4 linked regions of the Homo sapiens genome follow. The protein of the gene in region 4 purifies or fractionates together with the protein of the main gene of each other region. This does not show direct contact. Each region holds a gene or a part of one and is shown on either strand. Other genes may lie near its edges. The genes, in order: COLGALT2, APOL2, SECISBP2L and PSG9.

Region 1 (7,026 bases), on a different chromosome or scaffold from region 4:
TTTAGAAATCCATAGTTTGTCTTGCTAAATAAAAAGCTTACAATGGAAACCAACGTACCCAATAAATTTTATTAAAATCTAACAAGATTGAGGAAAGGCAGAGAAGAGGCTTGTACTTTTCTAAAATATTTTCGTATGCTGGCTGTTTCAAGCCTTACATGCCAATTCCACAAAATCCATTTGCAACACAAGAGATGGTCTGACTGTCTGAATACTCTCCCGCCCAACCTGTTTCTAGCACAAGGAAAGCAGTGGCGTGGAAGCTGCATATAAGCTTACTGTTCAATGGTGCAGTGATGACATGAAAAATCCTGATTCCACTTGGCAGCAACTTTCCACTATCTTGGCGGGTGTAAACCATAATCATTGTGGTGTGTGGTGCTGAGACAGGATTATGGGGCTGGCTGGCAACCAAGAAACTAAAAAACAGTCTATTAGTCCAGCAAGGGACTCCGTGTCGGGAATGCTATGGCCCCAAATGTCTACAACCACACTTTTCACAACTATCCCAAGAATTTAAGTTCTACTGTTAGTCTCTAGAAAATTCTACCTTTCCCAAGACTCTAAAATGCAGCAGTTTCTCACTTAATATGGCTTTCAGGGAGAACACCAATCAATGTACCTCCACAGACTCTCCTGTCTTAGAGTTATGTCTCTCTCTTGTGAGAATGAGATACTTGCCTTCACCACTGCCCTCCCCATCTCCAAAACATATACAATCACTCTCAGAAAGAAAAGGGACTGGAAAGAAACAGTCCTACTTCCCTCTTGGCAGCAATTGTATGCACTTTGGGCTTGGCAGTCCAAATGGGGAAAGCTCTATGTAAGGAACCTCCTCTCTGCAGCCTGATGTATCCCTCAATAGGTCTTGAAGTGATTCAACCTGGAAGGTAATGAACTATTCCAATAAAGCCAATGTGTGAATGAAATCAGGTACTCATGAAAATGCTTCAGCTCAGCAGCTTGTCCCAGACTCATCTTCTACCATACTCTTGGGGGTATACAGCCCAAGATCACTATTCTAAGATCATTATTTATGTTATTATTTGTGTTTCTGAAAGACATATCTTCTAAGATGTCTTCAAACATTAATCAGAAAACACTGGAGGGAAGGAGATTATTTTGCATTATGTTTGCAGAGGAACAAAATCTTATCAGTTAAACCAACAAGTCAGGGGACAGGCCTTAGCTTGCTGAATTTGACAAACAACTAAAATAATAATTGTTGCTTCAATTAAGTGAAACACGTTACAAAGTCAGCCCTAGCAAGATGTCATGGAGCTATTATTCAAAGTCTAACTCTGAAAGGATTTCTGTATGGTGCTCCTAGAGAGGAAAAGAAACGCCCTGCAGCCAAATCTGAGGTTTAATTCATGCAAGAGACTTGGCTAATGCCACCTACCACAAATGCTGCATTTTCACGGATCTGAACTACAGAAAGTTCCAGCAAATTAATTACAGCCACTCTATTTATATTCTACCTGACTTTTCAATTATTACCTATAATGAGATTTTTATTTTTATGAACATTAATGCACAGCTTTCCTACCAGAGGAGTAGAGAGCTAAGGGAAAAGTAATACAATCCTGATCCTTTTACCACTAGGTCACTCGCTGGCAGCTTGCCAAGCCTGCTGGTTCCCCAAAGTAGTTACTGCTTGGGTCCTAGGGTTCCTTCAGCAGCCTGAGGTGGGAGCAAAGCTCACCACCCAAATGTCAACATGGGTCAGGCAAGTCAAGTCAAAGAAAGACAGCGGGGACTAACTGCAAGTGCACACAGTGTGGGTCTGATGGGGACTGGGCTGCCTGGACAAAATCCAGGGGACAGCAGCTACTCAGCTCCAACAATAGTTGCTGTGTATGAATCCAGGCCTGGCAAGGTCAGGTGCTGGTTACATGGCATGTTTTGTCTGTGAAAAGTTACCAAGTTATACATTTATGATATATGAACTTTTGGATAAATATTACACCTCATCAAAAAGTTTTTTTTATTAGGGCCAGACCTTCTAGAGGCCAGAGAGACAAGGACAAGAGAGCAGGACGGGTGTTATCAGAGAGGCCTTCAGAGTACCTGCCTGGAACAGGTGTTATATGAAGCTGGCTTTTATTGTGCCACCCAGGGCATGGCTGTAGATAGGCTGGCAGTGTTTAAAGAACATGGGATAGAGAGATGGATTTTAAAATATCACACTTATCCAGAACTGGATATGTAAAACACTCATATTTGGGTTAAAATGAAAAGGATATATGTATATGTATAGAAAGTTTCTAGAAAAATATGAAAGAAAGTGTTAATATTGGTCACTGGCAGGTGGTATAGAGTAGATGGGAGATTTACTTTTTGTGATATTCCCAATCATACTTTTTTTATTACTTTCCCATTTAAAAAAGTCAGAAGAGCAAATTCTTAAAATAACTGAAGTACTATTAAAAATCCATAAAGACCCTAAGGGATTCAAATTTTTAAAAACTAACAATTTTTGATATGCTAACAACATATCAATTAAATGCAATTAAATGAACAAGTCACTCTTTTGAAATAAAAATGTCAAAACATAGAATACATACGTTTTGTAATTCCTGATGAATAATAGCTATAATTTAAACACATATGGTAAAAGTTCTTCATGATATGGTAACTGGGGAATAGGTGTAGTGGCCATACCATAGGCTAATGATTTTCTTTCAGACTTTACTGTATGTTGTTATGCTATGTCAAGAAATATGCAGAAACAAGCCTTATTATTGTCCTACTATAGTCCTATATAAGCCTTATAATGGTCCTACTATACTGTGCCATAGACTTGGAGACGGTGCCACACAGCAATATGACCCAAGTGCACGTTTAAGTGTTGGAAAAAGAACCAAGAGACAACCAGCAGCCTTCTCAGTTACAAGGCATTCATTGTTCATTCCTATGACCACCAGAAACAGACAAGCAAAAGGAACCTAAGAAGCACATGCTTATGTATTTGGAGTCACAAAGAAACTCCCTGGCCTAATCACTTGGATAAAGGAGCTAAAAACAGATCTGAGAAAACCAAACTCTGCTTAAAATACTCCCCATGCTCCTTTAAACCAAGAAGGATATTCATTATAAAATAATCAGCATTAAAACAGCTACACAGGATTAAAAATCTAGAAATCAGTTATCTCATTCCATAATCACCATGGGAATCTCTTAACTGCCCTGTGCTTTAGATGCCTCATCATGGAACTCAATATAATAAAACCAGGGCAACTTAGGCATTCTTACTAATTCTGTAGTTAAGCTGTCATAACTGGAACAACAGGATTGGTGTCATTTATTAGTCACTTCAGTTTTTACCCAGAGGAAATATTCTGAGCTCCAATCATATTTTGAAATTGGAGGTTGCAGGGAGGATTGATAATTTCTTCAATCATTTGGAATGAAGCTGAATTTAGGGGACAACCAAATCTAAGACTACTGATTAAAAAGCCTGAAAAATGGAATCTCTATTTTACCAATATGAACTGAAAATGTAGCCAATACGTGTATGATTAGTGCCACCTTAATCATTTGCCACTAATAATACTTGAGAAATTTCTTTCTACTGTTATGTAGCTATGATCACAGCAAGTGACCTGCATATTTATGTACAACCCACATTTTAGTCATAATCTGTCCCTATGAAATATACCAAAACAGATTAGAGTTCACTAAAAAGTGCCTGAACTAAGTGATGAAATTATCAAGACAGCGGAAGAGAACCACTAAGACCCTTGCATCATTCAAGTGGAAATGACAATTCTTATTTGAAAGAAACACTAGCGTTCTTATCTTCCCAAGTTGGGTCAACCGACAGAAGCAAAAACTAGAACTAATTGGTCTTTTCACAATCTTAAGCAGACCATCTGTACTCGGTCTGCAACATTAGCTGCCTGGGTCACATCCTGGCTCCACCATGCATTAGCCTAGTGACCTCAGGCAAGTTATTTATATTCTCTGTGCCTCGGTTTCCTTCTGTGTAAAGTGATAGAGTAGAATGTAATGGCATCTCCCACCTAGGGTTGTTGTCTGGAGTAAATCAGTTTTGATACCAAAGTGTCTAGAACAGTGCCTCCATGAATGTATCCTTCCTTCCTTCCTTCCTTCCTTCCTTCCTTCCTTCCTTCCTTCCTTAGTTCTTTATTTTTCCCTTCCCTTACCTTTTCCTTTTTCTTTTCTTTTGAGACAGGGTCTCGCTGTGTTGCCCAGGAAGAAGCACAGTGGCTCAATCTCGGCTTGCTGCAACCTCCACCTCCTAGGTTCAAGCAATCCACCCACAGTCTCCCAAGTAGCTGGGACTATAGGTGCATGCCATCGTGCCTGGATGATTTTTACATTTCTTGTAGAGATGGAGTTTCACCATGTTGCCCAGGCTGGTCTTGAACTCCTTGGCTTAAGAAATCTGCCCACCTCGGCCCCCCAAAGTGCTAGGATTACAGGCATGAGCCACTGCATCCAGATAAATGTTAGTTTCCTATACTAATATTTTTTGTTGTTGTTGGAAAGAAGAAACTAAACAAATTTCCATTTGAAGATTTTTTAAAATCTTGATTTTGAAAGGTAAAGGTAAAGGAGATAGGAGAAAAAGGAAAAGATTCAAAAGAAATAGCAACTATCATTGTTAGTAGCATTTATGTAAAAGACACTGTGCATACCTTATATCATTTACTTGTAACAATAACTCTTTGAGACAGGTGTTACTATTAGTTATTTGAAGATAAGGCAGCTATGTCTTAGAGGTTTACTGATGTGCCCACAATCACACAGAAGATTTATGCTCTAGTCTATCTGACCCTAAGCTTGTATATTTCTTCCTCCAACTCTGGTTGATGCCCTCCACGCTAAACTACCAGATTGGGAAAATGAGGAAAGGAGGAAAAAGGTGAGGAAAACAGACTAACAGACAGAAGGGGCCTAAGGCATCATCTGCTTTTTCAGCCATAAACCGAAACTTCTATCTGTAGGGATAACATACAACATTTAATATCAAGAGTGTAATGATAAAATATGACATCATTCTTACCACTGGTGCTGAAAAATGTCACTGATACTAGTTTGGAACAGTTTATAAACACAAAGTATATTAGTATTTCTAGTTAAACAATTATGAAAATGCTACTGATTGGACATTAAAATGTGGAGATAAATTCAAGATAATCCCCAAACAATGCAGAAATAAAGTAGTATGCAAAATGTTAGGACCATCCCCCAGCTCATCACTGTTTATGTTTATGTCAACAGAAGCTCCTCTCTTTATTTAAAAATCCATAAAGCGGTTCCCAATTTAGTATGTTACTTTTCAAAACTCTGCCAAACAAAATGCCCAAATCTTTCTGTAATTACATAGCAGTTACTGCCTTGTGCCTGCACAGACTCTGTGAATCCCAACTGTCTTCCCACAAGCAACAGCAGGCTCTCCAAAAGAAAAACTTAATGTTTCATTTGGGGCAAATGTTTTTCCCTGCGCCATGCTTCGGTTTTCACTGTCATGGTACTTGGCCCCACTCTCCCTAATCATAGGTTTAAGGAGGATGAGGTCAGCCTTCCCTCTGTTGCTAAGGCTACTTGCTCATGGTTCCACTGAATTAAGGAGAACCCACTGAAGTACACTACCACTTGTCACAATGCCTCACAGTTCCCTTCATCTCAGCATATTCCCAATTCCCTAAAACTTAGTGCAGGTTTTAGGACACATGAAATAGATATCTTCCTTAGGTCCTTATCACAGGATTGTGATATTTGAAGGAAAACAATTAGCTTGGTGGATTTTGAGATCAGACAGGTAAATGTAAAAAGCTTTCCTTTTTGCTTATACAAAGTATCTCTAAAATATAAATTTTCCTTTGTTCAGACTAATCTGAATAAACTTGATGCTGACTGAGATAACTGCAGACATTCTTCAACAACAGTATCTTCCAGGTCAATTTGATGATACTCATTTCATCTGTATGTGCAGTGCAGATCTGGTCCAGAACTTAAAGTGAGAAAAATTATCACATAACAGGGGAGTCTGAATGTGATCAATAAGCCAGGTCTCTCACTGACCCATCTGGGACAGAAATCAGATGCTCCTCTAGCCTGTGAGTGGATGAATGAGAAGAGTGAGTCTGCACAGAGTGAGTTATTGTGGTCAGATTCAGAGGAAGCTGAATTCTGTGTGGCTCTGTATTCACTGCGGTTCTATTTTACAAAGTTCTGGGTAGCTCACAGCCATTTTTGACATCAGCATGTGCTGGCTTTGCAGAATGGATACTAATCAGTTTGGCATCTTGGAATGTTGCATAGAGCTTGGGAATGAGAAACTAGAGGCAAGCAATCGGTAGAAGCACCTCAAATCTGTAACATCCTAAACTGAGGTACCACCTCCCATCAGAGTGTTATATCTCATAAGCTTCCCAGCCAAATATTCCCCTAGGGCCAGACCAGAAGTCAGCACTTCCAAAGAGATTCTATGGTACAATACAATCTGTTTGGAGACTTGCAGTCATTAGACCTGCCACCCACTTGAACTCCCTGAGAGAAAACTCTGGTTGATGCCCTATTATCTTTTTTTTTTTTTTTGCTTGTTTTTTGCCTTGCTGATCCCTTTTTCTAGAGCCATCCTTCTTTCCCAGGTTTTAGTTGATTTTTACTCTTCCTTCAAAACTGAGTTCAAACTAAGTGTCCACTCATCAAGAAGACATCCATATCCATACAACTGCCCCAATCTGATTTATAAATCATTTGGTTCTTCCCCAAACCCTTTAAAAGCCATTCAGATCACCTTACACTGCCCAGTAAAATGAATCATATTTATCTGTAAAAAAACACACATATCTAAATACACTTTTTTTCAGCCCTGATCTGGCTGGTTCTTATTTTAAAAAATGCATTAGAAGAATATGCTTGTACAGCCTCTCTGTACCTCAGTTCTCTCACCTGTAAAGTGGTATAATAACAGTGCATATCTGATAGGGTCATTTTGAAGCTTAAACCAGAAAATGAATGTGAAGTTCTTAGAAGAACCACGAGCTCTTA
Region 2 (7,026 bases), on a different chromosome or scaffold from region 4:
CTGAAATCCTCCCAGACTCTGCCCTGTGTGTCTCTTCCTTAGGCTGATTTTAATCTGTGTTCTTTCCCTGTGATAAACCACAATCGTGCAATAGCAGTTTTCAGTGAGTTACGTGAGTCCTTCTAGTGAATTATAAAATCTAAGGATGATTTTAGGAATCCCCATAGATTTGCAGGTGGTGTCAAAGGTAAGGGTGCCCTCAGACATTGCAGTCTGGCTATCTCTGAGTACTTTGAATTCAAACAAAAACAAAACCTCAGAAAGACAGGAGATCACTTTGCCTGGCATCTGCTCCCTTCCAATGCCTCATGCCCTTTCACCTGGCTGAAGGCTACTGGGTGCGGCCACTGCCCCAGCTGACTGGAGTGGGAGATCTGGCTATTCATTCTGGCTCCACATGGACGCTCCAGCCACCTTACTGCCTCCTGACCTACCACCTGCACCCCCAACCTTCCAGGTCTCACTCGCAGGTGTCACCAGCCTAACTGATGCCTTAGCAGTGACAGCTTCACCTGTGTGCACAGCAAGGCCATGTGCAATTTTATGGAACCACTAGAAGACTCAAGACACTTTCAGAACCATCTATATAAATTGCTAATGCTGAAAAGACCTGAATTTGGTCAAGATGGTAGAGGAAGTGTTTTCCTCCTCGGTTGGGACTTTGTGAGTCTGCTCAGTACCCCTGAAATTACACAAATTGGCAGCAACTCATTCTACTTTGGAAATGGTCACTAAGGCATGCCATGGTAAGGAGCTTCTCTGTGTAGAAGAGAAGAAGGTCTGAAAGGGTAGTCCAGAACTCACCAGTTCCAAGGCATGGGGTGAGAGACACAGGCTACCATGACCCTGTATGCCCATGAGTGTTGGGATCATCCAGACAGGGAAGAAATATCCCTCTCCCACTCACATGTCCTCTGCAAGTTCATGACCTCCTTAAGTTTCAAGCCCTTGGTGCCTCTCTTTCCACACCCTAGTCCCAGCCCTGGTGCCCCAGCCTTCCTGCTTGTCCTACCAAACCAAGGCTGACTCTTACTCCATCCTGACTCCAGGCTCTGACACTGGTCCCGGTCTCTCTGGGCCTTTGAGCAGGATCTTAGTCCTTGGTTCCCCACCTTTGACCTGGAGTTGCCTCTAAGGCCTTCACCACACTCCTATGACATTGAATTGCTATTCCTATTGGACAGAAGACAGTTCCAAGTCTCCATGACATAAGCCCAGAGCCCAGGAACTAGGCCTCTCAGGATCCTGGACCAGCAGAAGGGTCCTGCTGTGTTTGTGGAATTCTTCAGATGAGAAAAAAGGCCCCAGCCAGCATCCCCAGGAACACATATTGTTTAGGTTAGGATTTTTCTGACTTTTCCCAAAGGAAGTCCTGCTGGGCTCCCATCTTCAAGAAGAAGATCCTTAACCCTGGTCTCTTTCCACCAAGCTTGTAAGATGTTAACGTTAACTGTGCACCTACTATGTGTCAGTCATTATGCTAAGCACTTTACATGCATGATCTCATTTTTCTCATAATAAAACTCCATTGATGAAGAAAGGCTGAAAGTGAGAAAGTAACTGGCAAAGTTCCCATCACCAGCAGATGGCAGAAATGACCCTGTTCCTGTGGGCTTCCTATCCCCTCAGCCTGAGGCTACTCACTGCCAGCGAAGGACATGGAGGAAATATTCCTCCTGGAGTGCCGAGAAGGTCATCCTCAAGCCCAGCAGAGGGGGCTGCCTGGAGGAGGTGTGCCTGTCAGGGACAACCAGCCCAGGGGAGATCTGAGTGGCATCGCTGGGGCGCCCCATGGAGTTAACCCCATGGAGCTTACCTGGGCAGTTCAGCAGCAGCCACGAATCCATTCCAGGCTTCATCATCAGTCAGCAGTTGTAGCAGATTCTCTCTGCTCACTTGGTCCTGGAAATACTTAAGGTAATCCTCAATAAAGATACTGCTCTCTAGTTGGAAAGAAGAAAGGATAAGGTTGGAGGATAGTGTAGGGGAGCATAACAGCCATTGCACATTAGGTGGTTACATGTTAATTTTTCCTGGACAACTGTGATGTGGGACATGTTTGATGGAGTCATCAGTGCTATAGAGGGATTGTGTGCCCCCAAAATTCATATGCTGAAGCCCTAAACTCGAGTGACTATATTTGAAGATTGGGCCTTTAAGGAAGCAATTAAGACTGAATGAGATCACAAGGGTAGGGCTCTAATCCTACTAGAGGGCTAGTGTCCTATTGTAAGAAGAGAAAGAGAAACAATAAGGCCAGGTAAGCACACAGCGCAAAGGCAGCTGCCGCAAGCCAGCAAGAGAGTCCTCCCAAGGCTCCAACCCCTTAATTTAATAAACCATCAAAGACAGAAACCCCAAACCCCACTGGGCCCAACTGGCTCTTCTGAGTCCACCTGCACTTCCATCCCTGAGCCTGTGCTTCTGCTTTGCAGCTGATTTGTTTTTTCTTTGACTCAAATTTTTTCTCTCAGTGGAGTCAAAAACCTGGACAAGGCTAAGGTCTGGTCTCTCCTGGATTCGGAGAACTTCCTAAACCCACCAGCACCAATGTGACCAGGAATTTTCCAAAAAGGTAAATCAAAACAGGCAGTTTTGTAACTGCAACCAATCAAATAATGTCCTTATTGCAGTTTCATATTTACTCGATAAATACTTGTCTCTGACACTTTTTCATCATAACATGAAGCCTCTTCCAGTTTGGTTTTCTCAATTCATGAATTCCTTCTTATTCAAATAAATGTTACTGTGCCTCAGATTTTTCTTTGACAAGGGGTATCTGAGATCATGGGAATGAGGCCCTGCCTGAGGCAGTCATCCCTGGTCAGCAGGTGCTTGTGATGGGCAGTGCAGGGCGGGTGCCCTAACACAGATGAGGGGACTGGGTGGCTTCCACCTGGAATCAACAGGGGATAGATAGAGGAGATAGAGGGGATGCAAACTAATTCTTAGGGAGGCCCTACTGTGTGGCAGGCTTTGGCCAGGCCAGGTACCCTTATAATATTTAATCTTCGTGACAACATGGGGAAATATTATTTTCATGGTACACGAGAGGGGAGGTAAGGAGCTCCAGGTCACACAGAAGGGACTTGGAAAAGGCCAGACCGGGGTCCATTTAAGTTGGAAGCTGGGTCAAGCATGATACATTCCCATAGGGCCACTCAGAACAGAGGGGCTGGTGCAGGGCAAGAGCTGGAGGGAGGGGACCGGCCTGTGCTGGAAAAAACCCTGGGTCAGCAGGGAGAAGAGCGGTAGATAAGAGATCAGGGCTGCAGGTCAACCTCCTCTCCCACCCCTCCCCTCCTCCTGGACCCTGCTCTTCCCCCACTCCCCTCTCTTGCTTGTTCCACTTCCTCATGGCTGTCCTGCCCCACTTGAGTCATCTGCTGGGTGACAGGGTAGGGAGGAAGTGGGCACCTGGGCCGTGTCACCCCGAGGAGAGGTCAGGATGCAGATGACCCCCAGACCCCTGGGTCGGGGGACTCCACGTGACCTCTTCTGCTGCTCGGGGCAGACTCATTGGCCTCCTAGTCCATCTGGGTTCTTCTGGGGCTCACTCAGCTGTGGAGGTGCCACCCTCCATTCTAGGTGCGAGTAGGAACTAGCCAGGAAAGAGGAAGCGAGCCTACCTGGGTTCATGGTGCCAGCGGCTGGGTTACCGAGGGGCTTTCCTTGGAGCTCTCCAGTCACTGTCCAGACTGGAAGGTTTTCCTTAACCCTTGAGAACGAGAAAACAAATTGTGGGATCGAAGGTGAGCCTCCTGTGTACAGAGGGAGGCTGGAGGGGCTGGGTCTTTGCAGATCCCTCTGTGGTAGCAGCAAATGTCCAGAGTGTTTATCTCCTGGGGCCCTGCCAGCTAGTATTTACAGAAACTCACCTCGTTCCAGCTTCCTCTTCCCTCACTCTCACACCAAGGCAGGGTCCTCTTGTCCTGTAGGGGTATGAGAAGAAGATAATCAGAGGAGGGGCAGCCATCTGATCATTACAGAAACTACAGAGTCTATACACAGGAATAGAGATGGGAGGGAACATTCTGACAATGACCTGGGCCTGGGAACATGTATGATAACTAGTTGATGATAGCCAGTGTGTATTGTGTGTCTGTGATGTGCATGGCCTCTGACATGTATCTCATTCGATGATCACACACAGGACAGGAGATGGGTACCACTTTCCCATTTGAACACAGAGGAATCCACAAAAGTTAGGGAACTTATGGGTGTTTTCACAATAGTGCTAGAGCCAGGACTTCTGCTTCAATCCCATGTCTTCAATTACTGTGCTCTACTCCCTTAAATATACAATATTGAGTCATGTATACACGCTCATGGTAAATGACTCCTCATTGCAAATCCCTGTCTCACACTCTGTGCTCAACTCTTCGTCTTGGTGAACTCACTGGTGCTGCAGTGGACAGCCTGTGTCCCCGTTGCTTCTCTAAGATTCTTTGTCCCACAAAGACCTGGATCCTGCTAGATGCCGGCCCAGCCCCTGCTGTGGCTGCCGAGCCCTCCTGATGCTTCCCCGTCCCCTCTGCTGTCCTCCCCTAGCTGATGGACCTTAGGGTGTTTCTAATTCTTCATATAAATTATGCTACAAAGAATATCCTCCCTCACGTAAAACTGCTCACATTTGAGATTATTTCCTTAAGATACTTTTAAGAGTAGAATGACTAGGTCAAAAGCTATTAACATCTCAAAAGTTTTTATACCTAGAGCCACTCTGTATGAAAACTGTACAAATTCACACTCAAACTAACAGGATATGAAGATGTCCATTCTTTCAGTCTTACTGGCTCTCAGTAGTCTTTTCTTCAGGAAAACAAAACAAAACAAAACATTATTCCTTGAGACAAGGTCTCACTCCTAGTATGCAGCCCAGGCTGCTGGCAAAATCCTGGCCTTAGGGGATCCTCCCACCCTGCCCTCTAAAGTGCTGGATTACAAACATGAGCCACGACACCCGGCCTGAATAAATGCTGATCTTTATATAGAGGAAAGTTCTTCACATTCTGCTCCTGATTATCTTACCCTGGGAGGTGAGGGAAAATAGCAAATGTTAATCATATTAATCATCTTTAGGCACTGTTTTAAGAAGACAGAAGAGCATTTATCAACCTCCCCTCCTGAGATCAAACTACAGCCATAGTCAAGGCACTTACAGGTATAATGGCACTTAATGTTAATGTGGGCAAACATTGGTGGATTTTGCACCACTAATTGCTCTAAGATGTTATAAATAGTAACTCACAGAACTCTTCCAAGAACCTAGGAAGTGTGTACCATTGGTATTTCCATTTTCAGGTAAGAAAACTGAAACAGATGTTCAGTGACTTGCCCAAGCTCAGAATCTACTACGTGGTAAAGACTGGGTTCCCACCCAGACAGACGGACTCAAGAACTCACGCACTGCCTCTGCACCCTCTGCTGCCAATGAAAATTTAAATGAGGGCAACAGGAGATCAGAGATGCCAAGAGATGTTGGAAAACAGAACTGGCTGAAGAAATGACAACTGAATAAAGAGGGGTGAAGGGAGCTGTGAACCACAGCAATGCCAAGAGGGCATCCAGCCAGGCAGAGTGGTCTACTAGGCAGAGCCTCAGAGAGGGGAGGAGTTCACCAGGCCCACGTGCCATATGGGATTCATGCCAGCCTTGAGTCTACACCAGTGAAAAAAATCAGAGAGTTCATGACTGAAGCAATATGCCCCAGAAATAATATCTTTGTATTCTGACACTTCAGTGGGTTCCCATTCAATCACCCTACAGGGAAGACTGCCAGTAGACCTGCCCCCCACCCCGTTCAATATGAATAGATCTAGGATCAGAAATTGGAGAAAGGTGAAAGTGGGGAAACAGACCAAGATGACCAAATACAAAAGGAGTCCAGAACAAACAAGTAATTTTTTAAATCTCAAACCCATGTCCTCAGGGAGATTAAAAAATATTTTATTCATAAACTTAAAACAAGATATATAGAAAAGAAGAAAAATCAATGAAACAAACAAAAAAAGAGATTTTCTAGAAACTAAAAGGTGATGATCAAATAAACAAGTCTAGAGAGACCATGTGAAAGAAAGTCACGGAAATCCTCCAGAAAATAAACCAAAAAGATGACAGAGGAAAAGGAGCTATATGGGGAATAGAAAAGTTACCAGGCACAGGGTCACAGGGTGTTCTAAGAAAGCTACTTGAGAATGAGCCACCGGGAGGAAGAAAGGGTGGGTGGGTGGGTGTGTGTGTGTGTGTGTGTGTGTGTGTGTGTATGTGTTGTGCATCCATGGAGGGCAGGTGGGGATAACCAAGAAAGAAAAAGACATGGGATCCAGAAAACAGGAAAATCAACCCAGAGAGAAGGGAATCTGAGGATCACAGTGGGACATGCAGTAGGCCTACAAAACGACCAGTCCAGGATGGAATAAAAAGGGAATGGTTCTGTGGGAAAAAGGGACTCAATAGAATACCTCAAAGGATTCACAGTTTGAGAGAAACTGAGGAAATGAAGAAGGCAAGCAGTACAAGGGAGGAAAAAAAACAAAGGCAATTAGAAACATCAGGAAAAAGTAAAGCTGTGCCACAAAACATGTGCAAACATGGTGTACAACTCAGCTCCACAGTAAATAGTATTTAAAACATCACAAAATGTAAACACTCTTGATTGATTTTTAACTTTGAGAACAGAACAGAGCATATAAATATGAGAACTAAATATACTTGTTACCGATTAGTACAAACTTAAAGCACAAAGGTAGCAGTTGGGATGTGAAGCACTGAACGAAGGAGAAGGAGGATTAATATTGTCATCTTTTAAAGAGGGGAGTCAAGAAATACTAGGTAAAACTGAGAGTATAAGAAAGAAAGTTGTAAGTAAATTGTTTACAGCTACAAAGTTGCTAATGGAGGACATAAAACTGGTGATACAATATTAGGAAAAGGTGGAGAGGAGAGATAGAGGGAGTGTACAAACAAGATGAAAATGACTAATAATGACACTATAAGTAATAATGATAATACCGATTCAGGCCC
Region 3 (6,953 bases), on a different chromosome or scaffold from region 4:
ATTATTTGTGATAACAGAAAAGAGACTGTTAACCTCAAGTGTTCTGTCACTTCTAAGCCCATTGTTTACTTTAAAAAATCTCAATAAATTTCCTAAAAATAGAACCAGTAAGCCTTTATAAACAAAATGAACTCCATGATTTATCCTTCACATCTCAAAATGCAAGTTTTTTTTTTTTTTTCAGGGGAAAAAATGCATTATATACCAAGCAACACATATTCTTAGAATATTTAACTCTGGCAGTTAAAATTAAGCTAGCTATTTTGATTAAATACAGAGAATACTCTATAAAAAGTGCTGAAAGAGGATACTCCTAAGATTTTCTTCTAGTTATAACATTCTTTCAAATAATCATTATTGCAATTAAGATTATCCATCTAGCACTGTATTCCCAGTAAGTTACTTTTTACAATCTTGATCAGCACACATACAATTTACCTTTTCTATAAAAAGATTTTATATATTAAAAAAAGGTAATTCACAAGAACAAGAACATGAATGCCTTCAGGCAAAAAAAAAGCGTTTTTTTTTTAAAGTTACACTTGTAAAGTACACAAGGATTTAATTAGGTTAAGATAAAATGCAGAAAGTCTATATTAAGTACTACTTTTTAAAAACCAAACTTCTATGAATTGCTAACTACCACAATACTATAATGAGTAAGTTTTAATGCTGTAGGCATCTAGAGAAATTCTGAGTATGTCAACACTGGTCTAAAGGGAAAAAAACATTCTGTGAGGAAAAATGGAAATTGACACATATTACATATACTTTTCAATGACGTCAATCTACCTAAATTCACTTCAATAGTAGAAATACAAAAGTATAATCCAAATATCCTGGAAAAGCCATTACATGACTCTATGGCATAAAGAATCAAGAATTCCACAAAATTGAGAAATCTCAGTTCCCAATCTACTATTAAGTTAATGGTTCTTAGCCGTCCTTTGAGAATACGATGAAAATAATGGATTCTTGCCCTAGAAAAAGGCATATAAAGAAGCATACTCCTTCTAGGTCATTCATGGACCCCTGAATTAACTGCCTATCGCATAAATGAGGTGAAGACATCACTTTTCTATATATATTTTCTGAGTGTATAGGGAAGTGGAGGATTTTCAAATTATTCTTTCATTTAGGGTTAGGCTGGGGAAGAGGCAAGAAGTACTGGAAGAAAAAAAAGTCAACAGAAAACCTTCTTCCATGTTTTTTTCCTAGTTCTTAAATTTCTACAAGGTTTTAATAGGTCGTGGACTTTGGAAAGATGTGGAAAGGGGAAAAGGCTCTCTAGTTTAAATAATTTGCTCACAGCACTTGCTGCTAGGATAATCACAAACAGCTATGCTAAAAATTACCATCTAAATAGTTAATTATATTTCCTCTAGGATGAAAGGAACTCTAAGTATACATAAGGTAGCATTACTGGTTTTAGTCCTGGCATCCTAGTGAAGGAACAAAATGTTGAACCCTTTCATTAGTAACACACATACAAGGAAATGATTCAAGGAAAATTCGTATTCATTTGTCAGGCTTTGAAATCTCAGGTATTTATGATAGATACCTTCAAAAATGTTTTTAAATTAAACTAGATACAGGCTGTATACAGAATACTTCTGGGTCACATAAATGCCTAAGTGTATTTGCCAAGAGACTCTGTATCAATTTCTCTTTGGTAATTCCATGTATTGTTTTATAAAACTCATTTGTGTCTTCAGAGTTACATTCACATAAAGCTTTTTTTTAAAAAAAAAAGTCTTCTGTAAAAACAAGTATACACAACTAGGAAGCTGTGCTTTGCCTGCTAAGAGTCCGATTTCAAAATACAAACCGGCTTCAACTACATATAGACACATACAGGAATTTGGGAAATCTTATCTCATTAATTCAGGTGCTAATTATCCAACTGTAAAATTAATAGGCAGAAATTACTAGCCTCTCTTCTTCCGTCATCTAGTCATCAATGGGCAAGGCCTTCGAAGAAGGGAATAGAGAGTGAATAAACTTGGACTTCAAATTAAGTCGTTTCGCAGAGATCTTAAGAGTGGAAAATACTGGGGGGGAAACTATTGTTTTCGATTACTTTTAACACTGTTATCATCCCTGCCTGCTACCACCTACTAGCATGCATAATCAGGAATTTGATGCAAATAAAAATAAAACAGAACACTAATAGGACTACTTTGCGAATATGAAAACGGGTTCGAAAATAAGCTTATGCTTTACACCCTTAAAATAGAGCTAGCTTTAAAAAAAAACCCACTAATTACAATTCTTTGCAAAATAACTGGATAAAAGGACAAGGGGAAATCGTAGTATCGTTTCTTAAAAGAAACACCTCCGTAAAACCACTGCAAAAACAATGCTTCGCTCCATTGAACACAGACCTAAAAGGCCCGTGACTTCCCTTCATCTGTAGTTACCACACATTCTCTTACAGTCTTTCTGGGTGAGAAGCCTTCAAACGCCTTTCCACCTTGAAAACACATTCCAGAGCTGAAGGGAATGGGGGAAGCGGGGAGACTACTAGAAGTTATAAGCCCTCCTCCCAGGAGAGCAGGGACAACTTGGAGCCTTCTGACCCCTTCACCAAGCAGGGGAGAAGCGGCAACGGCGAGCCCTCCGCCTGGGAAGTAATCAGGGTTGGAAAAGCCCCCAAGTCCCAGGCAGCAGCTGGAACAATGAAGGAGAGCTGGGAGCTGCCAGGCTCCCAGGTGAGGGGGTCTGCGGCCGCAGGACCGGCCCCCGGTCCCCACGTTCGGAGAACTGGGCCTGGCCTGTGAGGAAGCGGCGACCCCAACCCCCGGCTCGGCGGGCCCAGCCCAAACCCGCGTACCTGCTCCGTGGGGGCTCGGTCCATGGTGCCTGCAGCCGCAACGGGCCCGCGCTAGTCGGTGTAAACAGCGCCTCGGGCCGCTTTCTCCATGGCCCCCCGCTCGGGTCCAGACTGGGTTCCGGACCTCCGCCCCTATCTGGCTGGCCGCGACACCGATTCGGCTACGCCACTGGCCGAGGAGGCGGCTCCAGCTCCGGGAGATGGAGGAGGCGGTGGCAGCTTCGGGGAGGGATCATCTGGGACGGAAGCCGAGGAGGGCCCGAATGGGCTGGAGGCGTAGTTAGAAATGGAGGCGCACGGAAGGAAAAGGAGTGGGGAGGAGGCAGAGAGGGGCAGTGGGCGGAGTGACAGCAAATGGCCTCAGCAAGGGTAGGAGGAACCCGGCCTGGCCTGGAGGCTAAGGCCAGGTGGAGGCGCCCAGGAGCAGGTGCCCCGAACCACACGCCACCCCTGCGACTGTTAAACGAGAAGTGTCAGACCACTTGGGACCCAGGTCTCCCGGGACTTCAAAGACCTCTTCAGGATCTGAAACCACCTCTTAGTGATGTTGGAAAAGCTTTCATCTGCCCACCGTACATCTGCTCCTTCCTTATGTTACGCAAATAAAGGGAGTCATGACTATAAAGGAATGAGAATATTCTGAAAATAATGGAGTCTTGCCCTAGAAAAATGCATATGTAAAACGCATACACAGAATGACTGGAAGAGGCCCGCTAGGAAGCTCCCCACAAATATTTATTGAGAGTTAATTCATTATCCAGGTTCATGCCCACTTCTAGGCTCACATCCAGGCTGACCTCGCCCATCTCAGAAATCCTAATTTTATGCAGGATCTGTATAACACCACCCAACGGGTAATTATTTTATCTTCAGATCCTTAGCTCCTTAAGGGCAGAGACTGTCTTGAAACTGGGCACTACCGTTAGCATGGCAAATTTCTTCTGGGCATCTCCTCAGACACACCCTCCAACACCCACACCCTCTGTGAAGATTCAACCAACTGCGGATAGAAATATTTTGAGGAAAAAAGAAATATCAAGTACAACAATAAAATACAAGTAATACAGTTTAACAACTGCTTATACAGCATTTACATTGTATTAGGTATTATAAGTAATCTAGAGATGATTTAAAGTATATCGGAGGATATGCATGGATTGTATGCAAATACTACACCATTTTATATAAGGATCTTTAGCACTCATGGATTTTGGTATCAGCAGGGATCCTGGAGCCAATATCCCCCCTGGGATACTTAGGGACAACTGTATAAGCTAAATTACACTTAAGTGAAGGTAGAGTTGAGGTGGCTGCTGTTTGGGGCACTGGTGTGGAGATCCACAGCTAGGAATGGGAAAGAGATTTTAAGAAATTTGCTTTGTCATGCTTCAGGAGATATCAGTAAAGACTAATTGCCTTTTCAGTTAGTCTAGGTTATTAGTCTGGTTATTAGACTCCAATATGAGGCTTGTTATGTGAAGGCCCCTTGCTGTACTTATGTTGATACAGGTTGGGTATCTCTAATGGAAACTATGAAATTCCAAACCCTCTTGAATCCCAAATGTTCCAAAATTAGAAACTTTCTGAGCACAGACATGACATTTAAGGATAATGTTCGCTGGAACATTTCAGATTTTGGACTTCCAGTTTAGAGATGCTCAACCAGTAAGTATAATGCAAATCTTCCAAAATCCAAAATCTGAAACACTTATGGTTTCAAGTATGTCAAAATAAGGGACATTCAACCTGTATTATATATTGGCCTGCTGAAAGGAGCTATATTGTGTCAGCAAGACTTATATCAAGGCTGGCAATAGAAACATCTTGAAAGGAGAAACATTTATATTTACACATTTATATTTACATTTAAATATATTTATTTAATTTTAGTAAATTTTCTGCCACCTCAAATTTAATATCAATGCATGTGTATTTGAACTGCAAATTTATGTAACATTTGTAAATATATGTGCAATTAACGTAATGTTAGGTCCCTGGTGCCTATCACACACCTAGCTGGGATTCAGTGAATGCTGAATGAATTTAGGGTTGGTTGCTCAGAAAAACTAAGTTATTTATAAGGAGTAGTTATGTAAACTAACAGATGACCGTCCTCCTTCACAATTGAAAGACAAAATAACTGAATTTTCAGATTGTCTTCCTACTGGTGGTCTATAGCCATAATATACCCTCATCTGAGTAAAAAGATAATAGCAATGCACTCATAAAAATACTATAGTACTTTTGCTTTTCTTCCTTCTTCTGAGGAATGATCTGAGGAAATTTAAATATAGGATTCCCAAGGATCTTTCCACATTATAGGATTTTTATGACTGTAAAATTGTTTTCATTGAGAATCTATGTACAAGACATTCATTAAAATTATAAGAACAGAATCATAAGAATTATGAGAACAGAAATGTCACAATGCCCTTCTCATTTAATGTAATCTTTAAAAAGATGGCAATAGCTAGTAGATAAAAAATTAAAATCTGTGAAAAAAAGTAAGACATATTAAAAATACTACACTTTACAGATGATATAAATGAATGCAAATTATTTTATTCACCAATAAATATTTAATGTGCAAGGTACTATGCTAAATACTAGAGGTACAGCAGTTTATGAGACACCTTGAGGGCTGAGACCATGTTTGTCTTGTGGGCAAGACATGCATAGGAGAAGTCTTTATAAGTGAGATGAGTGTAATGAAAAAGGAAGTATAATAGGTGCTACCATGGTAAGGGATGGAAGGTCAGGGAAGGCTATTTGAGTAAATAGCATCTACAAAAAGACCTGAGTAGGAGTTATGATCAGTAAAGGAGAAGAAGTAGGAAAATTGTTTCAAGAAGAGGAAATGGCACATGTTAGCATTCTGAGGAAAGAGAAAATTCAGCCTTTAGTACTCACACAAGCTCATCCCTTGGAATGAGGGTTCAGAATGTGAGGGATAATCCAATAGATGAAGGCCTCTGAGAAGCTCGGAGGGGATAGGACACAAATACCAGGGGCAAGAAAGAGGCCTTTGATGGGAGTAGGGGCATGTTATCTACTGTAACAGAAGAAAGGAAGAAAAGATCAATATGGCTACAGATTATATACATTTGTAAGTTTGGTGCCAAAAGTTGAGGGAATGCCTAATGGCTTCTGTTTTCTCAGTGATGTAGGAGGCAAGGTTACCTGCTGACAATAAAGAGAGGTGGAGTTGTGGTGACTAGGCACTTGTCAAAATTCAGCAAACATATAGTTAAATTATGTACATGTCATTATATGTACATTTTATCTCAAAAGAAAAAACTATAACCAAATATTGAATTCTAGCTTTAACAAACGCATACACCTATGTAATTCAAATCTCTATCAAAACATAGAATGTCACCATTACCTCCAGTGACATTGAAAACTTCTCTACTTATATCAAATGCTTGTCTTATACATTGTTGTTATTCTTACTACCTATACCAAAGCCTAGCATGCAACAGGTGCTCCACAAATATTTATTGAATAAATGAGCTGTAATATTATATTAAATCAGGATTCTTTCATCCAGGGTTGGGGTTTTGTTAGGCATGTGCATTTTATTGAAGGAGCAGGATTCACTAGGGTGCAAGTAGAATTATTATTTATTGTCCTGTACCTTCAAATTCTCTGAAGATGATTTCTTTTTCTGCCTTGGATGAAATCTCGTGAAGGTCACACAAACTTTATTCCACGTCAAAACTTCTCCTTTTCCCCAGCTCAGTCCTGCTTCAAGCTGGAAGCCTGCAGTGAAGGACGTGGCTTGGTCCACTTCAGTTTTGTTTTCTACATTTTTTATCTCCACCTCCTGTACCTTAAATACTCAGATTAGGCTTTTAGATTTCTCTAGGTTTGGACTGTGAGGGGGAGGATGGCAGAGCTTCTCAGATGTTTAATTACTACTTTCCTGCATGTTTACATGCAGCAAAGTCATCTCAGAGCAGTCACTTATGACCCTAGCCCTCAGCCCTTGTGCTTCTGAGGGTTTAAATCTCAGCTTGATCAATTTGGGGAAGAGCAAGCCAGCCTTATTTGCTGGATTCCCTTTTAAAATGGCTTCAGGCAGAATTCCTGGGATCCCATCAATCCCTGGGATCATTTT
Region 4 (7,579 bases):
GGTCTCACAATTCTTCCACAAGAGGCAATGCACACTTTAACATAGCACTTCAGCAAATAAAGTGGTGACAGTTTACCTACTTAGATTAAGTTTCTTAAAAGATTCTCCCAAATTTCCCCCTGAAGAAGACAGAAAAGGCTTTCCCAATTGTGAAACATTGGCTTCCCCACCTTTCAAAAAAGGACCCCAGAATAGCCAAAACAATCTTGCCAAAAGAAATTGTAGGACTTGAACTTTCTTATTTGAAATCTCACAAAGGAGTACAATTATTAAAACAGAAGCTGCTGGCAAAAGAATGGACATAAAGACAAATGGGATAGAATTGAGAGTCTAGAAATAAACCCTCACACTTATGGTCAATTACTCTTTGAAGAGGGTGTCAAGACAATTTAATGGAGGAACAATTCTCCTTTCTAATGATAGTGCAGAAACAACTAGATAACCACATGCAAAACAGTGAATTTAGATAACTCTACCTCCCACCATATCAAACAATTCTCTAAAAAATTGATCAGTGAGTTAAATATAAGATCTATAACCATAAAAACATCTTAAAATAGACATAGATGTAAATATTGATGACCTCAAATGTGCAATGGATTCTTAGATATGATACAAAAGCATGAGAAATAAGAAAAAAATATACATTGGGCTTTATCAAGATGTGAGCCTTTTGTACATCAAAGGAAATTATCAAGAAAATAATTAATAGATACAGAATGAGAGAAAATATTTGCAAACCACATATAGGCAGTTTTCATGTCCAGATAATATAAAGAACTAGCTACAACTCAATAACAAAAGGACAAACCATCCAATTTATAAATGGGCAAAAGACTCAAATAGACATTTCTTCAAGGAAGATATACAAATAGTCAAGAAGGACATGAGAAGATACGCAACATCATTAGTCGTTAGGAAAATACAAAGTCAAAGCATCAATGAGACACGACAACTCACCTACAAAACTGGCTACCATTCTTTTAAAATGTTAAATAACAAGTACCAGTATTATGTAGAATTTGGAATCTTCATACATTGCTGGTGAGAATATAAAAAGGAGAAACAGTTTTGCTTTTCCTCAAAAAGCTAATCATAGAATTCTCATTTGAAACAACTTCCATTCCTAGGTATATACCCAAAGAATTAAATCCAGGGACTCAAACAGGTACTTGCATGGGAATGTTGATTGCAGCATTATTCACAAAATATAAAATATGAAAACAATCCAAGTGCTCCTCAACACATCAATAAATAAATATGGTGACACATACAACAGAATGTTAATCTGCCATAAAGAGGAATGAAGCTCTGATACCCACTGGAACATGCATGGACTTTGGAAATATTATGCTAAGTGAAATATGTCAGAAACAAATTAACGTAAGTGTATAATTCCATTTATATTAGACATCAAGAATAGGCAAATTCATAGAGACAGAGTAGAGATGATCAAAGTCTAGGGTGGAACATACAAGGAGGTATTGTTTAAAAGATACAAAGTTTCAGTTTAAAATGATAAAAATTTTCTAGGGAAAATAGTGGTGATGGTAATTTAACACTGTGTATGTGGTTAATTTCACTTGATTGTGCATTTTAAAGTGGTTGAAATAGCACATTATTCACAGAACTGTGAAAAATAGATTTCTATTATATCGTTCACCCAAGCTAAGGTGTTTGTTATGGCAGCTGAAGCCCATGAATACATCATCTGACCCAGTGTGTCAATGAAACACATCAGTATTTCAATCAAATTAGCTGGAAGCTCCTGTCCCCAGGAGAATCAAAGGCCCCAAAACAAGAGCTCCAGCAAGGGCTCAACCAGCACAGGTCCCATAGGGCAGCCTCAATGTCAGGCCCTGGATGGCATGTGAGGCAACAGCAATACAACCACAACGTGAAAATGTAAGTATTTTTACTACTTCCAGACACTAGGGAGCACTCGGCACACCTGGAGACCACAGACACAGTGGTCAGTGACCCCATGCAGGGAGGAGAGAAGAGACCTGTAAGCGAATGGCTTTATTAAGTCCAGGGTGTTATCTGACAGGTTTCCAGCAGGGAGCTTTAATGGATGTGTTCAAAGCAAGCAGCAAACACTGGGACCAGGAGCTCACGCTGTGACTGAGAGGTAGTCACTTTAAATGTGAGGGCGAATGTCAGAATTATCAGTTTAAAGAAAGCAGCTTGAGAGAGGGGAGCCCAGCACACCAAGCAGGAGAGATGCCTCTAAGATTTTATCTCTGGACACCAACTGGAGCCACTTGAACCAGACACAGTATTGAAAACTACCATGGTGACCAAGCCCTGCCTCTGATTTGAGGCAAATAAACTTACACCTTAAAAAATGAATGCCAAGGCAACATGACACTATGAGCATCATGACATCCAGGGACACCAGCAGGGTGTGGTACTGTGCCCTGGAGTCAGAATCCTGGGTTCTGGTCCCTGGGAGTGAGAAAATGAAAATGACTTGTCCTTGCCCCCCTGACGTTGATCTTCCCACCCTGCTGCTCCCTCTTCTGCTCTCAAACCCATGTGCAGTGCTCAGCCCCAGGCATCACTGCCCCCAGGGTATTCACAGTGTTGCCTACTGCACACAAACACAAACTCACAGAAGGTGACAAAAATCTGCGTTTGGGACATCTGATTGTGAAAGAGGGATAACAGTGAACGTAGAGCCACAGAGACTGGGACTCACGGGGCTGGAAGGTGAAGGAGCTGTAACATAACATATGTGTGACCTCGTGTGAAGTGGAATAAAACATGCAGCCTGGCCTGGGATTGCTGCCGTTCACACTTCCCTCCCTGTCCACCAGAGGGCGACAGAGTCCCTCCCAGCCTGGAGCCTTCCCAGGGGATGCCAACCTCCCTCAGCGGAACCCACAGCCCAGCAGGGTCCACCCTCACCAGGGTCACTTCGGCCCAAGTCCTCAGCACCCTCCATGCTCCCCACACGGACTCTGTCAGTTCCTCCCTGACCTGGCGGCCGCCAACCTAACACCACTCCCTCTGCAGGGAGCTCCTGCCCCACACACCTGCTCCTTCCCTGGGCCCAGCTAAAGGCATCTCCCAGGGCAGCGCTGGTGCACGCGACGCCACACTGGGCGCTTTCCCCTCGTGAACTCTCTCCATCCTCATCAACTCTTTCTGTCACTGCTCCCTAAATGCCTGCCCCTGCTCCATCTGTCCTGTTCTCTGGGGCTTCCCAGGCCAAGCCTAGCGCCGACACAGAACAGCGGCTGCCTGAGGGCCCACAGCCTCCCCGGGAATCAGCCAGGCACCCTGTCACCTGCCTGCCCCCTGCACCCCAGGGGGCTCAGAGAGCGTGTGATGGTCATTCACAGGTACCATCCGGGATGTGGCCACCTACCCCCAGCTGTCCCTTGGGAAGACAGACCTCTCCTGTGTACTTGCGTGGAGAAGGGCGGTGTTATTGCTCTTTGCTCCCAGAACACAACTCACCCCCACCCGCCCTCTCAGGTGTGAGCAACGTCCCTCCAGAGAGCCTCTCTGGTCACTGCCTGTTCCTCCTCTACAGACAGCAGCTTGGCCAGGTCAAAACCCTCAGGACAGACCCCTGGGTGTGTCAGCACATGGAGGGCTGAGCCCATCATGGCCACGGAGTAAGTCGGGATGAATCTCTCCAGCTCTGAACCCCTGCTCTGTCCCAGGCTCCCCCTCCTGCGTCTCAATGAGCCATGTCCCGCGGGGTTCCTGGGTAACTCCCCACTTCCTCCTGCACCACCACGGGGAAGGTGTGGTGACCACAGGACAATCAGCTGGGCAGAGAAGAGAGGACATCAAAGATGGTCAGGGAGAACATGAGAAACCCTGAGCTCCAGCTCAGCCGCCAGACCCCAGGGAGCCATAGACTGACAGAGAACTGTCCCTTTGACTATGGGACTCACAGCCCCCACTGAGCAACCAGCACAGGCCTCTCCTCCTAAGAGGCATGAGAGATTCACCCTGCACACCTCCAGGAAGGACAGTTTCCTCTGGGACACCCAGGTCCTGAAAGTCCATCCTTGGAAGCTGCAGTCAAGCTTGACACGATTAGAGAAAGGAAGGGTCCCTCTCACCAGGCAACACACAGCTCACCCACAGCACAATGGGGTGTCACTGTGACAGGGACCTGGTGCATCTCCAGCCTCCTGCACTGAAGGGGAGAGCCAGATGGGGATGAAAGAGGGTAAAAGGCATGAATGTGCACCCCAACCCAGAGCCATGGGGACAGCAGGAGGCTGAGGCCCAGGACTGTGCTTGCCCAACCTGCAGGGTATGTGCCTGACTGTGTGGGTCTGTGTGTGTCTCTTCTGTGTGTGTGTGTGTGTGTGTGTGTGTGTGTGTGTGTCTGCACAAAGTGTGTGTTGAGGTTTGGTGAAAGAATCACTGCTGAAAAAGGCAGAGGCCTCCACAACTCCCAGGGACCTGAAACACAGACAAAAGGAAAAACAGAAGGAGGGACAAGGAGGCAGGACTGAGAGAGAAGGGGACAGAGAGGTGTCCTGGGACTGACCCCGCCCATGAGCTTGAGAAGTGCTCCTGCCCCGGGAAGAGGCTCAGCACAGAAGGAGGAAGGACAGCACAGCTGACAGCCGTGCTCAGACAGCTTCTGGATCCCAGGCTCATCTCCACAGAGGAGAACACACAGGCAGCAGAGACCATGGGGCCCCTCCCAGCCCCTTCCTGCACACAGCGCATCACCTGGAAGGGGCTCCTGCTCACAGGTGAGGAGAGAACTTCCTGGGAGAGGACAGGGGGAGGAAGCGGAGTGACTGGATGGGGTCTCCTGGAGAGGATGGGGTTGTAAAATAAAAGAAGCCAGCTCTTAGGGAGGCTGAGGTGGGTGGATCACGAGATCAGGAGTTCAAGATCAGTCCGGCCAATGCAGTGAAGCCCAGTCTCTCCTAAAAATATAAAAAATTAACCAGGTATGGTGGTGTACTCCTGTAATCCTAGCTACTCGGGAGGCTGAGGTGGGAGAATCATGTGAACCCGGGAGGCAGAAGTTGCAGCTAGCCGAGATACCGCCACTGCACGCCAGCCTGGGCGACAGTACGAGACTCCGTCTCAAAAAAAAAAGAAAAAAAGGAAAGAAGGCTCTGTTGCAGCCTGGATAGGGGAAAATACACCAGAGAGGGACAGGGGTCAAAAGAGGAAAGTCACATTGAACCGGAATTGGTAAGAGGTAGGAAAATCTTAAGTGTTCTGTTTTCCTGATTAATCATCCGGGGCCACCACATTTTGAAAAATGATAATAATAACTATATCAGATGACACTTCAAATAAAAATATAAGCAGGACATGAAACACTATCCTCAGCAAAAAACCTCAACAATTGGGGGAAAAAAAAACACCCAGGGCATGGAGGGCCCTGAGAACTCTCACATCTACAGGAGTCTGCAGCCTGTCCCAGGCACTGGGGTGCAACCAGGATCACAAAAGTCCCTGTCCTCACGGAGCTCACGCTGTCATGGGGAGGAAGACAGACATGCGAAGAGATGTAGAATGTGAGATCAGGTGTTGACAAGAACCCTGGAGGGAGCAGAGCAGGGAAAGGTCAGAAAGGGAAGACCCAGGGTCTCTGAAGGAGGTGTCAGGAAAGAAGTCTAAGGATGCCCTGATGTGAGCAGGACCTGAGGGCAGTGTGGAGGGGGCCGTGTGGACCCCTGGGGAAGAGGATTCCAAACAGAAAAATGCCAAGGTCAGAAGTGTTGAAGGAATGGGGGTCATGCTGCTGACCTTGACCTAGTAGGACAGTAGGACACACACACATACACATACACAAACACACATGCCCGTTTTTTGTGTGTGTTTGTTTGTATGTGTGCGTGTGTGTATCTTCAAGGCTGAGGATGGAAGAGACCTTCTCAGGACCCAGGGCCCCATCTTTTCACCACAATACATAGGTCTCAATATTAACTGATGCTGTCTCCCCCTCCTAGCATCACTTTTAAACTTCTGGAACCCGCCCACCACTGCCGAAGTCACGATTGAAGCCCAGCCACCCAAAGTTTCTGAGGGGAAGGATGTTCTTCTACTTGTCCACAATTTGCCCCAGAATCTTCCTGGCTACTTCTGGTACAAAGGGGAAATGACGGACCTCTACCATTACATTATATCGTATATAGTTGATGGTAAAATAATTATATATGGGCCTGCATACAGTGGAAGAGAAACAGTATATTCCAACGCATCCCTGCTGATCCAGAATGTCACCCGGAAGGATGCAGGAACCTACACCTTACACATCATAAAGCGAGGTGATGAGACTAGAGAAGAAATTCGACATTTCACCTTCACCTTATACTGTGAGTGATTCCACATGATCCCTGGGTGTTGGGGGGAAGGGGTCATTTCTACTTCACACACACAGGATTGTCAGGCCTGGACTCTGCCTGTGTCACTCTCTGCATTATGTCCCATGCTGGGGTTTGGGCATTTAGTGCAGGACACACACAGAGGAGACAAATTTCAACAGATCAGAATTCCTTTCCCGCATCCAGACCCTGCAGACACTCGCTGCAGAGGAAGGACAGTCTGATGGGGGGACTCAGCAGGAGGAGATCAGTCTCAGCCAAGCACATCATGCCCTCTTCATAAATTTGACCCTGAGAAAGACCCTGGAGAACTGAGTAGGGCTTGGCTTGAGGGGACCCCTGAGATACTCTCAGAGAAGCTCAGCCCTAGAAGCCTCAACCCCAGACCCCTGTCCCTAAATCCTTGCTCCAGTTAAGCTGAGGAGCCTGTGCCAGTGCTGGGTTGTGGCTTCTTGGGCAGGCCTTACTGGGACCAAGAATTTACCAGCTGTCTGAGGACTGTGTCTCCTGGAGCTGTTCACCAGCCAGGGCTCAGCCCTCAGAGTCTCATCTGGGCAAGGACAGAGCTTTTTCAGCTGACACTCAGAGTGGAGAGGACAGAAAGACAAGCTTTGTAGGACATCAGCCAACTGCCTTGGGAGGCTTAGGACAGTCCATAGAAAGTCTAATGTCCCCAGAAGCAGAAACAGAAGGGAGAAGATGTACCTGGTAGCAGCTTGTCCACAGGGATCTGACATAAGGTGCTTTCTCATGGAAGCAAATTAATAATAAATGCTGCTTGTGTGAAACCTCCACTGTGCCAAGCATTAGGTCAGGTGACTGTGAATCATTTAACATTTATTCACAGATAGCATGAAAAGCCACAGTCCATTTGCCATTTAGTTTATTTGATTGAGAGAAAACTGAGGCACAGGAAGGTGCAGTCACTGAACCAGAGTCACACAAACACAAAGGGGAGATCAGGGTCACATGAGGTCTGTCTGCAGCCACAGGCCTATCCTCTCCTCCACCAGAAGTGAGGGCTTACTGGGTTCCAAGGACCCCATAGTCATTTATTGGCTCAAATCCTCTCTTCTTAGGCATCCAAACCTCAGAGGAGTGAGAGCAAATGGTCAGCTGATTAGTCTGTATTCCAGAACTAAATCACCTGCCTCAACCATCAGAGTCAGTGCAAAAAATATGTCCAGGCCTCCCCCTCAGATCTTAACCCCCATCACTGAACGTGAAATCCTGTGTTTCCCAAAGTGTCCATGTCA

The links.
Region 1: the proteins of PSG9 (region 4) and COLGALT2 purify together in Homo sapiens (affinity purification with mass spectrometry; 3 studies listed by BioGRID and IntAct, with this or other methods). This does not show direct contact.
Region 2: the proteins of PSG9 (region 4) and APOL2 purify together in Homo sapiens (affinity purification with mass spectrometry; 3 studies listed by BioGRID and IntAct, with this or other methods). This does not show direct contact.
Region 3: the proteins of PSG9 (region 4) and SECISBP2L purify together in Homo sapiens (affinity purification with mass spectrometry; 3 studies listed by BioGRID and IntAct, with this or other methods). This does not show direct contact.

Annotation. Positions count from the first base shown.
Region 1 is NC_000001.11:184,027,724-184,034,749, forward strand, and holds part of COLGALT2 (procollagen galactosyltransferase 2), read right to left. Parts: intron 1-7,026. UniProt on the Homo sapiens protein: Beta-galactosyltransferase that transfers beta-galactose to hydroxylysine residues of collagen.
Region 2 is NC_000022.11:36,229,524-36,236,549, forward strand, and holds part of APOL2 (apolipoprotein L2), read right to left. Parts: intron 4,813-7,026; exon of another isoform or gene 4,713-4,812; intron 3,933-4,712; 5' UTR 3,879-3,932; intron 3,719-3,878; 5' UTR 3,640-3,718; coding exon 3,630-3,639; intron 1,944-3,629; coding exon 1,817-1,943; intron 1-1,816.
Region 3 is NC_000015.10:49,043,443-49,050,395, forward strand, and holds the start of SECISBP2L (selenocysteine insertion sequence-binding protein 2-like), read right to left. Parts: upstream 3,005-6,953; 5' UTR 2,858-3,004; coding exon 2,834-2,857; intron 1-2,833. UniProt on the Homo sapiens protein: Binds SECIS (Sec insertion sequence) elements present on selenocysteine (Sec) protein mRNAs, but does not promote Sec incorporation into selenoproteins in vitro.
Region 4 is NC_000019.10:43,266,519-43,274,097, reverse strand, and holds the start of PSG9 (pregnancy-specific beta-1-glycoprotein 9 isoform 1 precursor), read left to right. Parts: upstream 1-4,567; 5' UTR 4,568-4,666; coding exon 4,667-4,730; intron 4,731-5,948; coding exon 5,949-6,314; intron 6,315-7,579. UniProt on the Homo sapiens protein: Binds to the small latent transforming growth factor-beta complex, consisting of the N-terminal TGFB1 latency-associated peptide (LAP) and the mature form of TGFB1, thereby leading to the activation of TGFB1.